Regions from separate parts of the Homo sapiens genome. Here region 1 is linked to region 2. The links come from fine-mapping of genetic effects on gene expression. Tissue or cell type: aorta. Region 2 holds a variant in brackets; the other region holds the start of a gene. All regions are shown on one strand. Distances are from middle to middle.

What was found. PIP is the estimated chance that this variant, and not a neighbour inherited with it, causes the effect.
Region 1: TCF7L1 starts here. The variant in region 2 is fine-mapped to the expression of TCF7L1 in aorta (GTEx, PIP 0.91).

The regions. Positions count from the first base shown.
Region 1 is chr2:85,128,964-85,137,064 of GRCh38, reverse strand. TCF7L1 (transcription factor 7 like 1) reads right to left here and starts at 3,673. Exons shown (of 12, transcript NM_031283.3): 1 at 3,132-3,673; 2 at 2,986-3,049; 3 at 2,615-2,742. The coding sequence starts at 3,380. RefSeq lists enhancers at 1,340-1,913, 1,914-2,488, 3,064-3,638 and a silencer at 4,004-4,073.
Region 2 is chr2:85,260,458-85,268,558 of GRCh38, reverse strand. All of the region lies in intron 3 of TCF7L1 (transcription factor 7 like 1), which reads right to left. It also overlaps the pseudogene SNRPEP11. Among named protein-coding and RNA genes, the nearest start is that of TGOLN2, 63 kb to the left of the region's middle. RefSeq lists enhancers at 5,094-6,021, 8,005-8,101. The variant A/G (reference allele first, on the strand shown) is at 3,935.

The sequences.
Region 1 (8,101 bases), 130 kb after region 2:
GCAGTTTAGAGGCCAAACAATAAAAAAGACCTAAGATGTCAGAGAGATCGGATCATATATCCCAGGCACTTTCCTCCCTCCTCCCTCCCCACTCGTATCTATCCACATTCATTTTACCAGGCTGGGAAACCAACAGAGGGCCACTTTGTCTGTACCTACCATTTGCCTACAGTGACAATTATCTTAATTATATTAATAGAATCGTTCAGCAGAAAACCATCATCTCCACCCTATAGTCCAGACAACCAAGTGCTTAAGTGTTTCCTCACTTGCTTTACTTACTGGCAGCAAACGAACAGGGTCAAATTAGGTTTAACTGTGCTGACCTAAGGGCAGGACACTTCCCCAGTATATCCGTGAACTAACACAGCGAAAGGCACACAGAGACACAGAAACACTGGGAACTGAACTAACTTCTGTAAGGGCAAGTCACCAGGGAGACAAGATGTAGGTATGGGGGTGGGATGGGACATACTAAGTCCCCAAGAAAGTACATGTCCTAGGAGGCTTGAAAGGAGGCTGGTGCCTGGGCCAGGGCAGGGAACAACTGCAGAGATGAACAAGGACAGTCAGAGAGGCATGCAGAGACGAAAGGTTGGCTGCCTCAAGGAGGGGCTCCAAAATCCCACACGGGCCTGGATTTAGTAATCAGGAATCTCCAGGATCAGCAAGAATCAGCCTTTGGAAGTTCTTAGGCGAAAGAACACATAATGTGATAGAAGGAAGGAAGGAGGGGACACTAACAAAAATCTGTCTCACTTGGACTGTCAGAGAGAGCAGACAGCAGAGCCTGGATGAATCAAAATGCCCTAAAGAGAAATGGGTGCATGGAGAAATAGCCTTGAGGGAGCCATAGTCATATTTGATGGTGAAATAGTCATTTCTGGTGACTTTAACTGCATCAGGACTTGGCTGAGGGCTGATGCACAGATGCTAGTGCCTCCCAGACCCCTCTCTCTAGATATCCTAATAGTAAATGGAAACCTGAGACTTTAGCGGCATTAACTCTCCCCCATACGCAAAGTTACACGAATCCCAACAAAACTTGCAGAACTAAGCTACATGTGTGGGCACTGGTGGGAATCACTGAAAACCTAAATAAGACCGCAGCAGCTCGTTGATCCCCCCCCCCCTTTGATTGGCACGCACCTCTTTTCTTTTAATGAGAAAAAGCAACAGCCATAGACCCACATCCAGTTTTCACTGCAAAACTGACACTTACATTCAGGACTTCCTGGGGTGCTCCAGGCCAGCAGGGCCAAAGCTGCAAGACCTCCCTCCCTCTCGGGGCAAAACTGTGAGGTCTGTGTAGTCCCACTCCCCATTCCCCTCTCTCTCAGTCAGAGTCTCTTCCACCGCCCCCCGTCAATCCCCCTCCAACCCATCTGGTGATGGTAGCGCCCCCGCTGAACCAAATGTGGAGGACTTGGCTCTCCACCGACCGCTGTACAATGACAGCAGGAATGGCCATTCAGCACCTAGCCTTTCTCTAGCACCCTTTAATTATCGTCGTTATTTTAGGGCAGTCTTAGCATAAAGTGTGTTGCTGGGACCCTGCTCCTAAGAGGCTAACACTCCCTGCCCCCTTACCCACCGTCGACAGCGAAGTGGCAGGCAATGGGAATCTGGGCGGGAAGCAAAGAACTACTACGATTCACATCGCGCCCAAGCAGCAGCACGCGGGAACCTGGCACACAGTAGGTAGGCGTTCACCCAACATCTGTCATCGGACCCAGCACCTGGGCAGGGAGCCTAGGGGTGGAGTGGCGGCTTGGGGGACACAAAGGCCTCGCCAGCCCCCAGCTGCGCCCCTCGCAACGCGGGGGGCGGGAGTTTAGAGCCAGAGAGAGGGGGCGAAGGAATCCGCCCTCATTTGCACGTCGTCTGGGGCCCGGTCAATTTGCTTAATCACCGCTCTAAATGCCAGCGGGCAGCACACAATACGCGCCCATTAACAGGTTTAAAGTGTCGCAGCGCTCGCTTTAAATGAGAAAAGCAGGCGACAAAAGGGGGAAAAAGCCAAGTTCCTCAACTTGAAGAATGCCTTGGGTCGCCTCGAAATCATCTACGCGAGTTTAAAATTCGGAGCTAGCTCCGCAGAAAAGCTGAGGCCCCGGTGCGAGGGCTGGGGGTGGGAACGGGGGCTGTGAATAACCCGCCACGAAAACTGGGTTTCTTAGGAACCAGCCTGCAGCCGCCCAGTGAACCCGGAGTCGGAGGACAACGTCGCCAACCCAGCTCCCTAGGCCCCTTGCCCCACTGCCAGAGAAAGCTGACCGATTTCCAAGAAGGAAAGCGAGACCCCCCCAAAGCGGGCACAAATCCAAGTTTCCTTCGGTGCAGGCGAAGAATTCTGGAGGCCAAGGAAGATCCCAGAGGTGGACTCCAAAACCTCAACCCGCAAGAGGGGAAAAGTTAAAGTAACTTTACTTTCATCCAGGCACTGGCCAGCGCAGCCTCGCGCTCGGCCGCCAGAGAGTAGTTCAACTCCGCAAACAAGTTCTGCTTGGGATCGGCGCAGAAGGCCCCATCCCCCACTCCATGGCCAAGCCCGGGGGCGCATCCTGCGGGCCGCGGCCTCCCACCCTCCCCGGCGCGCCCGACGGGCACTCACGGTGCGCGCTCCTCCGGGAGACAGGGGTCCGTTGGAGAGGTACGGGCTGCTCAGGTCCGGGATCATCAGGAAGGGGTACCCAGGGTACGGGGGTCCTTTAAAGAACGCGCTGTCCTGAGGCCTTCTCACTGCGAACAAGACCAAGGCGAGGTGAGGCCCAGGCCCCCGGGACTGACAGCGCCGCGGCAGGGGGCTCGAGGCGGGAGCTGGGGACCCCAGCGCCCCCCACGCGCGCCCCACGGGGGCTGCCGCCAATAAAGGCGGAGGGCAAGGGTGCGTCCACCCAAGCAAGGGGGACGGTGGGCCGCCCGGGCTGAGCAGCGGAGCGCAGCGGGAATCGAGAGTGGGGGGCTGTCCCAGCGGGCACATACCTTCGGCGAAATAGTCCCGCGGCTTCTGGAAAGTGTCCCGGACGGGCTGCGGGCGCCTCTCCGCCTGCGGAGGAGACACAAAGGCAAGAGCGGGTGAGCGGACGCAGGGCCGGGATCCCCCGGGGGTGGCCGCGGTGCTTCCTTACCTCCGAGTCCGAGCTGCTGCTCTGGTTCTCCGACTCGTTGACCAGGGACGACTTGACCTCGTCTAGGTCCCGCTGCGCCGAGGCGCTATCGCTGCTCGGCTCCTGCTCCTCGCCCCCCTCGTCCTGGAAGGGGATCAGCTCGTCGTTCGCCCCGAGGTCGTCCCCTCCGCCGGCCGCCCCGGCGCTGGAGCCGCCGCCTCCCCCGCTGCCGCCGCCGCCGCCGCCGCCCCCGCCGCCGAGCTGGGGCATGGTGGGGCCGCGGGCCGGGGCCGCCGCTCTCGGAGCCCCTAGCCGCCCGCGCCCTGCCCGGCCCGGCCCGGCGCCCCTCCCGCCCGCTTGCGGGCCCGCTGCGCTAGCCGCCGCAACAAAGTTTGACAGGGCGTGGCCCCGCGGGAAGCGGGCCCGGCGCTGCCCGGCCGGGGCGCAGGCGGCTCGGCTCGGGCCCCTCCGGCAGCGCCGAGCCTAGGGCTCCCCAACTCGCCACCGCCGCCGCCTGCTCCGCCGGGGCGTCCCAGCCCCTGGCCCGCCGGGGAGGGGCGAGCGGGGAGGGAGGGAGGAGGGACCGCCGGGCTGGGCAGGGGGGCCGGAGGGAGGAGCCCCGGCTGCAAGCTGACACCCGCGCGCCTCGCGGAACCCGGAGAGCTGCGGTGCGCGCGCACACACACACATACACACGCACTCACACTCACACGTTCACACTCGCATCTTCCAGGGGCTGCGTCTCCCTGCAACGTGCACCGCCCCCAACCCCCTCCTGCGCCTCACACTGCACCCTCGGCGGCCCTCCCCACGGCCTCCCTGGAGTCCTGGAAGTCTTGCGCCCACCCCTCCGCATCCCCTAACTTTCTCCCAAAGAACCTCCAGAACTCCGCGCAGGTTCCCACCCCCTCCCACCGTATCGGCGCGCGGGCGGGCGGCACTGCCCCCTGCGGGAAAGCCTCGGACGCACATACTGGCCGCGGGGCCCTCCCCCTGCCTAGAGTCCCTCCGAGTGCGCGAGCTGATGCACGGACTAGGACACTGGGGACATCTATGGAACCCCGGAAAATGCCCGGCGGCTTTCCGCGCCTTTTTCCTGTGGGGTTCCAACGCGACCCCCGGCCCAGGTTTTCAACCTTGTACAGATATACAGATTTCCCTGCTGAAATCTTGAAGATCACCTTTTCTTCATTGTTTGGGACTAGGTCCTAAATCGAAAAATCGCGGTCTTGGGTTCCAAAAGAATTTGGATTTGGTTCATTGAGAGGGAAAATTGCCTGTCCAGTGATCTCCGAAGCCATTCACAAAGCTGCGTGAGTAGCCAGTGAACACGAGAAAAATGCTCAACCAGCCTCATACCTAAGTAATGCCTGTGGTGCGAGCGCCACGGCCCGCGCCTGGAGTTCCATCTACTCCCGAGGCCTAGGCAGGAGGATCGCTGGAGCCCAGGAGTTTGAGACCAGCCTGGGCAACATAGCAAGACCTTGTCTCCAAAAAAAAAATTTTTTTAATAAAGAAATGCCTGTTACAATGACATTAAGATGTCGTTTCTCTCCAACCTGTGCGGGAAAGTTTGAGGAAAATGAATATCTTGTGTTATCCTCCGTGGGGAACTATTAGAGCATAAACTTTGAAAACAGCTTGGAAGGCAGTATGGAACTATGTAAAACTATTTTCAGCCCAACTGGCAGAAGAGTTTCTACAGAGGTGCCCGCACATATGGGCAAAGCCACATATGCTAGGTTCAAAGCATCAGAGAGCTTGGTGACATGCATTCTTCATCTTTCTTTACAGTGACAGTCCATGCAGCTGGCCAGTTCTATGCAGTGTCCCCGCCCCTCCCCCCACCCATACACACACACACACACACACACACACACACACACACACACACACACACAGGCACATGGACCAAGATTGATTTTGGAGGAACATCTTTAAATGAAACACTATATATGACACTCACTATTTTATTTTTGTTTTTAAAAAAATTATACACATTTATTTCTGCGTAGAAAAAAATCTGAGAAGATGCAAATTATTATCAATGACTATTTCTGGGAAAGGATAAGTGAAAGGAGATAGTTTTCTGGTTTCTATGAACTTTATAACAAGCAGATATGCCTTTTCTAATTTTTTACACAATACATGAGTACAGTCTCATAAAGCGTTTTCAAATAACAGATGTATCTTGAGCAGTATCGAGTAACAAGTAAAAGTTCCTCTTTCCCCCTCAGGACACAGGACCCTTCTAATTAACCACTTTCAGTTAACTGCCTCTGGTTAACCACTGTCACTAGTTTGGTATATATCCTTCCAGACACTTTCCTAGGCAGTTATGAACATATGTAAACGTATTTACAGATATTCTGATGTACATACATAGAATCATACTCTTTGTATTATTGTGTGTTATTTTATTTTTATAAGATTTAAAAGTCAGACGATTTTTCATGTTTATGGTCCATAAATATATGAAAAACCTATTGTACTAGTTTTCTGCTGCTACTGTCACAAATCACGAAAACTTGGTGGCTTAAAACAACAGAAGTTTATCCTCTCATAGTTGTGGAAGACAGAAGTCCACTGTCAGTTTCACTGAGTAGAAATGGAGGTGTTGACGGGGCCATGCTCCCTCTGGAGGCTCCGAAAAGAATCTACCCTTGTCTCTTGCAGCTTCTGGGGGCTTGTGACCACATCACTCCCACCCTTGCGTCTGTAATCACATTGCCTTCTCCTTTTTTTGTCTGTGACAAATTTTCCTCTGCCCCCTTCTTGTAAGAAACCATACTTGTGGCCGGGCACAGTGGCTCACGCCTGTAATCCCAGCTCTTTGGGAAACCAAGGCAGGTGGATCACGAGGTCAGGAGTTCCAGACCAGCCTGGCCAACATGGTGAAACCCTGTCTCTACCAAAAATACAAAAAATTGGCCAGGTGTGGTGGCAGGCGCCTGTAATCCCCGCTACTTGGGAGGCTGAGGCAGGAGAATCGCTTGAATTTGGAGGGAGGAGGTTGCAGTGAGCTGAGATGGCACCACTGCACTCCGGCCTTGGCGACAGAGTGAGACTCTGTCTCAAAAAAAAAAAAAAAAAAAAAAAAGTGATACTTGTGATAGCATTTAAGGACCACCTGGATAACCTGTCCATGTCAAAATCCTTAACTTCATATCTGCAAAGACCTCTTTTCCTTAAACATTCACAGTTTCCAGGGATTAGGTCATAGATGCAGCTTTGGGAGTAAGCCATTATCAGCCTGCCACACCTATAAACCAGAAATGCAAACGGAAACAGCATTGAGATAACCAGTTTTCATCTGTCAGATTGGCAAAGGAAGAAAAGAATGGTAACACCCAGCATTGGCCCCTATACTAAGAAGCACATAGATGCTGGGCCATTGTGTAACAGTTCTAAAGAGAAGTTTGGTAATACCTGTGAAATACCTTTAAAAGTGTGAACCCTTTGACTTATCCACGTACTTCTAGGATTTTATCTGAAGGAAACAACTAGGTACAAAAATAAACCTGTAGAAGTGTGTTCATCACAGTGAAAAAATCTAGAAACAATTTCAATGTCCCCTATAGGGAATTATTAAGTTAAATCATGGTGCATTCATCTAATGGAATGTTATGACATTGTGGAGATATATTTGTCAATATAGAAGGAGGCTCATAATGGTAAGCAAAAGTAGCAAATTAAAATTAACATGTAGACTTCCACTTCCCATTCTAATGGGGTATTGATGTCAGATTGACTCCTTCATCAAGAACAACTAACTATAAACTGGATAAAATACCAAAATAAAACAACAAAACCCAGCTGAGTTGAAGGCATCACTGTCAACCAAGTCAGCCAGGACGTGAGGAGTCAAAATACCAGAAGGGAAATTCATTCAAGCGAGTTTGTATTCACTGCTGTTTCATCCCCTCAGAGAATTTGGTGATTTGTAGCACCAGGCATAGAGGCCAAACCAAAAACAACCATCTAGAGCAGCATACTACAGCTTGCTGCCTGTTTTTGAATGGTCTCAGCTAAGACTTTTTTTTTTTACTTTTTTTTTTTTTTTTTTGAGACGGAGTTTCACTCTTGTTGCCCAGACTGGAGTGCAATGGTGCCATCTCGGCTCACTGCAACCTCCACCTCCCGAGTTCAAGCAATTTTCCTGCTTCAGCCTCCTGAGTAGCTGGGAATGTAGGCATGCACCACCACGCCCGGCTAATTTTGTATTTTTAGTAGAGACGGGGTTTCTCCATGTTGACCAGGCTGGTCTCGAATTCCTGACCTCAGGTGATCCGCCCAAGTGCTGGTTTTACAGGTGTGAGCCACGTCGCCCGGCCGCTTTTTTTACATTTTTAAGTGGTTGAAAAAGATCATAAGGGCCAGGCGCAGTGGCTCACGGCTGTAATCCCAGCACTTTGGGAGGCCGAGGCGGGTGGATCACCTGAGGTCAGAAATTCAAGACCATCCTGGTCAACACGGTGAAACCCCGTCTCTACTAAAAATACAAAAAATTAGCCGGTCGTGGTGGCGGGCGCCTGTAATCCCAGCTACTCAGGAGGCTGAGGCAGGAGAATGGCGTGAACCCGGGAGACGGAGCTTGCAGTGAGCCGAGATCGTGCCACTGCACTCCAGCCTGGGCGACAGAGCGAGACTCCGTTTCAAAAAAAAAAAAAAAAAAAAAATTAGCCAGGCGTGGTAGCAGATGCCTGTAACCCGGGAGGCGGAGGTTGCAGTGAGCCGAGATCGCGCCGTTGCGCTCCAGCCTGGGCAACAAGAGCGAAATTTTGTCCCAAAAAATAAAAATAAAAATAAGGATAATATTTATGACACATGAAAATTATATGAAATTCAAATATCAGTGTTGATAAAGTTTTATTGGAACATAGCCATACTCCTTAGCCTATACATTGCCAATGGCTGCTTTCACAAAACAATGATGGAGTTTAGGACATGTATTGCTTAATGATAGGGATACATTCTGAGAAATAGGCAAT
Region 2 (8,101 bases):
GAGGTTGCAGTGAACCGAAATCGTGCCACTGCACTCCAGCCTGGGTGACGTGAGCGAGACTCCGTCTCAAAAAAAAAAAAAAAAAAAGGCATCCAATCTTATTCGCCCTTTGGGTCCCCACGGCCTTAAGCACAGCATATCATTTGTGAGAGGTGCTTGATGACTATTGCAGGGTGTTCTAGGATTAACCAAATTAGAGGTGCAAGTCCTTCTCTCTGGAGGTGCTGCCTCCCAGGCAGCTCTAGTGGAAATGTTGTCTGCAAAGGCAATTAGCGGTCACACTCCTGGGGTTGTTGCCACAGACCCTAATTTAGCTGACCTAGGGTGAGAACAGAGAAACCATCACCTTTTGGGAGAATGATGGATAGAGGGAATGGGAAAGTCCGCTGCCACTGGGGACCCTATCAGGTGAGTAAGACTCCATTTACCTAAAGTGATCAAATAAAAAACATTTACCAATATCATATCTGCTTCTATTTTTATATTTTCCCCTACAGTTAATACATTATTAAAAAACAAACAAAAACATTCTAATCTTTTGTAGCTGGGGGCCTTGATGCTGGGATTCTTCTGTTCAGCCCCACTGTGGAATACAGCACTTCTGAAATTCATACTCTGTTTGATATTAATATCATTTCAGATAAGCAAATAAGTATGTGCCAAAGCCAGGGACAGGAAACTGTCTGCATAAATCTTGGATAAACAGATTTCTTTAAAGAAAACATTTAGTGATGCGTTACCTTGTGCCAGATACTCCATGTGTTATTTCGTTTAACCCCCACAGCCTTATAAGTTGATGCTATTATTATCCTCATTTAACAGATGGAGGGATTAAGGTACAAAGAGGTTAACTAACTTGCCCCAGTCTATCCCAAACCCAAAAGCCAACTCTTTTTTTTTTTTTTTTTTGAGACAGAGTCTTTCCTCTGTCGCCCAGGTTGGAGTGCAATGGTGCGATCTTGGCTCACTGCAACCTCCGCCTCCTGGGCTCAAGTGATTTTCCTGCCTCAGCCTCCTGAGTAACTAGGATTACAGGTGTGCGCCACCACACCAGCTAATTTTTGTATTTTTAGTAAAGACAGGGGTTCACCATGTTGGCCAGGTTGGTCTTGAACTCCTGACCTCAAGTGATCCACCTGCCTCGGCCTCCCAAAGTGCTGAGATTACAGGTGTGAGCCACCATGCCCAGCCCCAAAGGCCAACTCTTTTTTTTTTTTTTTTTTTTTTTGAGACAGAGCCTCGCTCTGTTGCCCAGGCTGGAGTGCAGTGGCACAATCTTGGTTCACTGCAACCTCCGCCTCCCGGGTTCAAGTGATTCTTCCACCTCAGCCTCCCAAGTAGCTGGAATACAGGTGCACACCCAGCTAATTTTTGTATTTTTGTAGAGACAGGGTTTCACCACGTTAGCCAGGCTGGTCTTGAACTCCTGACCTCAAGTGATCCGCCCGCCTCGGCCTCCCAAAGTGGTGGGATTACAGGCATGAGCCACCACACCTGGCCAAGGCCAACTCTCAATCCTTTCATTATGCTAGTGCTGGAAGAGAAGAAAACATACCACTCCTGCAGCCCATCCTGGCACTCCTCAGATAAGGGCAGTCAGGCCCATGGGGTGAGCTGTCCCACCAAGGTCACGGAGGACACTGGCAGAGCTGGGATCAGAACAACCCAGGTGTCCTGGCCGCCAGCTACAGAACAGCTATGATGGATCAGGTTATTTTTTTTACAACACATAAACATAAAAATAATTGGAAGGGGATGAAATACTAATGTAAGCAAATCAATATTATAAATACCAATCTGAGAAGTCATAAAACACAACAAAAGAATACTTGTATTATTGAAAGTTTCAATATGGATAAGCCGTAAGGCATGCAGAGCATGCTCAACAGCTCCACACTGCCCCCTGGTGGTTCCCAAGTCCCCACCGGAAGCATGCTGGACCAATGACCAGCGGGAAACAAAGGCCCTGGACAAGGATACCTGCTGCACTGAAAACCCCAGGAGCCGGTGACCTGGTGGGCCAGACAACAAAGATCCTCCTGGGCTGGGCATCAAGCCGTCAAGGAAAATCTCTGGGTTCCACTCCCATTTGTTTGCAGAATTTGAGATAAAGAAGTTATGAACTCAGTAATGAGTTAACTACTTTTAGTCTCTCATGTTGGCAGTGGCCTTTTCCCCCTTTAATTACCACAGGCACTTTTTAATACCCTGGTGGTGGGAAAGTAAATTAGTAAATCCTGTCTTGTGCAATTTGGAAGTATGTATCAAGTCTTCTGAAGGCTTACTGTCTCTAGGAATGCATCCTAAGGAAATAATTAAGGATGCAAGCAAAATATAGCTGCAAGGATGTTCACTGAAGAGCTGTTTATAATAGCTGAAAGATATTAAATGCCTTATGCTGCAATTATGATATCTGAATTTATGTAGTAGGTGGTTATTTACAGAAACAGAAAGGTGTTTACACTGTTAAGTGAAAAAGCAAGATACGAAACATGTATTTCCACCTGTGTAATGGGGAGTGCTTAAAAAAAGAAAAAACATGTATTGAATCCTACTTTTACTTGTAATTTTGTAAAACAGGTATCTTTATGTATGTGTTGAGAAATCTGGAAGAATATACACTAAGAGGTGAGTTGAACTTAATCTCTCTGGGAGACAAGATTATGGGTGTTTTTATTTTATTCTTTTGGCTAAACATACATTGATTTTAAAAGGTAAATGCAAATATATGCAATGGGAATCACTTTTTAATTAAAAAAATTAAATATATAAAAACACTCAAAAAAAAAAAACCCAGTAAAGTCTATATTCAAATCTTCAGCCTCTCATTTCTGAACTTCTGAGTGCTGTTTTATTTTGAATGGGGTCTTGCCCCTGACAACCTTCCCAACCGTTCCCATTAGGGCCTGGAAAAATGTGACCTCAGCCGTTTGGAAGCCTTCAATGGTTCCTGGGCAACATACGCTGGGGCCAGTAAGTGCTGTGACTGCCAGCTGCACGAGTCCTTCCTTGGCTGAGGAAGGGTCCACTCTACAGCCCCGCCCTGGACACTCTCCTCCACTCTTTCCCTTCCAGAGGGATTCCCCTCTGGGGGAAGGTCTGGGCGCCAATTCAACCAGAGGAGACAACCCAGTCTGCTAGTTCTCAGATCTCACTGGCACCAGGGCTGCTGGGAGGAGCTTTAAAAACACTGATTCCTGTCTGCGTTCCCCATTATGATTTAACTCTTCCAGGGTGGGGCTTAAGCATCTACTTTTTTTTTTTTTAAGCTCCCAGGTAATATTAATGTGCGATCAGAGTGGTCCCCAAATGCTCACACCTACCCCTCCATAACTTTCTGTAGTTTCTACCCATTGTTTGGGCTTCTCTTTCAAAGATGACCTTCCTGGATCTATGGTCCTGTCTCTTTTACACTCTTCTTTCACAGCCCAGAGCAAGCATCCACCCACTTACCCATTAAACACTGTTTAGTGCTACTGTGTGCCAGGTTCATGGTTCTCCCCTACCTAAATCCTTGCCTAGAATACATATCTTCATTCCGGTGGATCCATTATAAGGCTCAAGGTGGAAGTTTCTGGTAAAAATGGAGAATCTATAACCTGACAGCAGCCCTCATAAATTAGCCATCACAAAGTGAGACAGGAAATGCCCACACAAGTTTCCTGATGGTTTATTGGACAAATTCAATATCATAACCCATATGCCATAAACACTCCTAACGGCGTTAGCACATTACATGCCTTCTTTCTGGGTTGGGAGAGGGGCTGCAACACATTCCCCCAACTCTCCAATCAAATCCAGGGCTTGGTCTTTATGGAATTTCAAGCATCCAGGCTAGGCTAGTTGGGTTAGGGAGGAGGGTACATTTCAGAGCACAAAGGCTCTAAAAACATTTCTCAAATCCCCTGTCACTTCCTGACTGACCTAGTAGAAC[A/G]CCAATTCTAGGCATAGCCTGTGCATGAAGTTGGTTACAGAACTTAACTTTCACAAGCAGCTGTTTGAGGACCGAGACTGGGTGGTGATCAGGTCTTGTTCAGGCCTGATGATGACCTGAAAATTCCACATCTTTGCCACTTCCTTCCTGAGCCCCCAGTTCCTATCCAGACTCTGAAACCCAATCACTGACCAGGTGACAACTCCATCTCATGTCCGAGGATTTGTGATGCATGCACAGCACCAGACTGGGTAGGTGTGGCCCATTTGAATACTTTTTTGTAAGTCCACTGGCCAAATTCTCATTTGATCCACCTTGATTTTCCATATTCCATTCTATCCATTCCTGGAGGTCAGGAGTACTCACGTAGTCACTCAGATACACGCTGAATTAAACTCCAAGTCATGGTTCAAATGGGTCATTGATTTCTTCCTCTTCAATTTCCATTTTTCCCTTCAAAGAAGGAAGAATGGGCAGGAAAAATCAGTGCAATTGGCTGGAGACCCACAGTTGGATGGGCCCTGTGCTGAGGCCGTCTCTCCCTTACAAGCTCTTTACAAAACCGTCAAACCCCCACTGTCAATGCCTCCACTCCCTCCAATCATTCGGCCCACTGCCACCTGCCTTCCACGTCACTGGCCCTGTTTTCGCTAAGGCCACTGCTGACCTCCTAACTACCAAACCCAATGTCATCTTCCAGGTCTTTTTCCTAAGAGGCCCCTCAGCTTCTGGGGCACCCTTTCGGCTGGTTTTCCACTTACTCCTCCAGCCGCTCCTCAGAACCTTGGCCTATGCCTCGAAAGCTGGTGTTCTCTGGGTAGTCTCCTCCTCCCCCTGCAGGTTGGCACCCACGCGGTGATCACGCTCATCTCTGCAGCTGGCTCCAGCCTTCCTCCTCATCTCCAAGTGCTTCCTTGACACCGTGCTACAGGCAGCTCAATCCCACACAGACTCATCAAAATCCAGCCCTGATCCTGTTTCCTACATCCTATCAACCAAGGCTCCTTTGAAAGTGAAAGGGAACACCTTTAACAATTATGATGGATGATGTAAACCAGGACATGCGGTCACCCTGAGTATTGTACAAACCTTGGGGATCATTCTGGCCTCTTCTCTTTCCCTCACTCTCTACAACTGACAGGGGACCAAGTCTTGTCATTCTAACTTGGACTGTCTCTCCAATTGTTCCCCTTCATCTCTGCTGCTCACTGCCCTGGACCTCTGTAAAGACTCTGAGCTGCCCTCCTGCCGGCAGCCCCTCCCCAGGCCAGCCCACCCTTCCTGTGATTGCATTACTTCCCCCCCTCCACCCTACCCCCAACAAAAGCTCCAGCGGTTCCCGATGCCTGCTCAGTGGGCATTAAAGCCCTGGCCTACCCTTCCCATCTCCAACTGCCTATTCCCAACAACACCCTCCATCCATTTTCTAGCCAGCCAATCATTCCATTCTCTGAGTGTTTCACTATTTATGCCCCCAAGTCTTTTGCCAAAAGGCTGCCATGCTTTTGCCAGTGACTGGACTACCACCCTGGGTACCTTTGGTCATTGGCCCAAGTGAAGGCAAAGGGCTGCTGAGGGACCGCAGCTTTCCCCAGTTGCACATGGAAAAGGTGCAACTGTCATGATGTAGATGACACTCTCTCCTTCTCCCTCTCTCTCTCTGAGGCCCTTCTTTCTGGAGTTCCATAGCCACTGGCCTGGCCCAAGTTTGGGGTAGGGGTAGGGTATCTGAAGCCACTGCAGTAGCAAGTACCCTGTGTTAGCCTCTAGTTCCCCGCTCTTGGGTGTCATTTCTTCCCGGGTCCATGAGTAGCCTTCCAAAGGGAATCTGCTGGAGAACTTATTGGAGGATGGCATCAGGCTCCAACTCTAGGGACCACAACCCATATGCTTGTTCTCTAATTGCTTTCAGAGTTCCGGAGAGACCCTGTGAGTTCCTGGGTATCCCCCATGTATATGATGGGGAATTCATTCTGCTGGTTTGATCTCTTTTCCTTTGGGCAACATCTTTAAAAAAAGTCTTCCTTGGAGACTTCAAACCTGGATCTTTAACAAGTCCTTGATGAAATGCTTGGAAATGCTCGTGTTTTTACCCTGGACTTGACAGCAGCCTCTACAGACTCCTTTCTCCATATTCTGCTTGGCTTGTCAGAGGCCAGAGGGATCCAAAAGAATTCCTCAGGGGAGGAAGCCCTAAGCCTACATCTTATTCTTTTTAGTTTTTTTTTTTTTCTTTTAAGAGACGGTGTCTTGATTCTGGAAGTTGCTCTCAGAGGCAGCGTGCGGGTGTGCTCTTTGTGAAATTCCACCATGGCATACCATGGCCAGGGCCAGAAAGTGCAGAAGGTGAAGATGCGCCCATCAACCTCATCTTCAGATACTTACAAAATAGATCGCAGATTCAGGTGTGGCTCTATGAGCAAGTGAATATGCGGACAGAAGGCTGTATCATTGGTTTTAATGAGTATACGAACCTTGTTATTAGATGATGCGGAAGAGATTCATTCTAAAACAAAGTCAAGAAAACAACTGGGTCGGATCATGCTAAAAGGAGGTATTCCTCTGCTACAAAGTGTCTCCAGCTAGAAATGATCAATGAAGTGAGAAATTGTTGAGAAGGATACAGTTTGTTTTTAGCTGTCCTTTGTCCAATATGAACATTTATTCATATTGTTTTGATTACCCTTATGTTATTACAAGATGGCAATAAATGCTATGGGATTGTTTGTCTTACAACAAAAAAAGAGATGCTGTCTTGCTCTGTTGCCCAGGCTGGAGTGCAGTGGCACGAACATGGCTCACTGTGGCCTCCTGGGCTCATGCGATCCTCCCACCTCAACCTCTTGAGTAGCTGGGACTATAGGCACACATCACCACACCCAGCTAATTTTTTTTTTTAACAGATGGGATCTTGCTATGTTGCCCAGGCTGGTCTCAAACTCCTGGCTTCAAGAATCCCACTGCCTCAGCCTCCCAAAGTGCTGGGATTACAGGTGTGAGCCACCACGCTTGGCTTCTTTTTAGCTTTGACAACATCTACTTCAACTCACCTGATTGCTTAGGCTGGGTTTTGGTTACAGCTAAGGCACAACTTCTTGTCCTTAACAACCTTTGTCAAGACACATGCTTGCTGGTGGAATCATGTACAGTCTCCACTTCACAAAGTCCTCTTCCAGGCATTGTCCAGGGAGGTATCCTTCGTGAGCACACACATGCTTCAAATCACAAACATGAAAATGATCTTCCTTTTAATGCCTGCTTTAAACAGCAGCCACTGGAGGTGGAGAATCCAGAGGTCTGGCCTGTGTAATACACTTCGATAGAAACCATGCCCTTGTGTACAGGCCTACGGGCCTTGTTATTATAGTTAACTTTTATGGTGGGTTTTAGGGGCTGAAAAAATTCTACTAATATTATTGGAAATACATTTTATAGCTTTGGCTATGAAATACCACACACACACACACACACACACACACACACACACACACACACACACACCAGCAATAATTGAGGAAGTAATTGAAAACAAATAACACTTGAGTATATGTGCAAATTCTACACAGGTGACTGCAAACCACAAAGATACTAATGAGAAATGGCAGACAGGTTCTTGGCAGGTAGGATCTCACAGGACGTGTGCAAGGCCTGTCACAGTAGATATGATAACTGAGGGAGAGCAAATTCTCAGTCATTGTAATAAAACCAAATCCCAGAAGAACTTCTTTTACATCCCAGAGTGGAGGACAACTATTTTAGGATGTTGCTGCTTGGACACACCTGTTCTATCAGAAGGGGCTGAGTATGTGATACTGAGTTTTCTTTTTTCCTTCTGTATCTTTTTCCCCTTTGTATCTGTGGTACACAGTACAGCACATTATTCAACATATGTTCATTAAATGGCCACCGAAACATCTTTCACACGGGTTAACAAATGGCCAGGCCTCACGTACAAGGTCTATTTGTCTGTTTTTTTTTTTTGAGATAGGGTCTCACTCTGTCACCGGGGTTGGAGTGCAGTGGCACGATCTTGGCTCACTGCAGCCTTGACCTCCCAGGGCTCAAGTAATCCTCCTACCTCAGTCCCCACCGGGTAGCTGGGACTACATGCACGCACCACCATGCCCTGCTAATTTTTTTTTTCCTGTATTGTAGAGACGAGGTCTC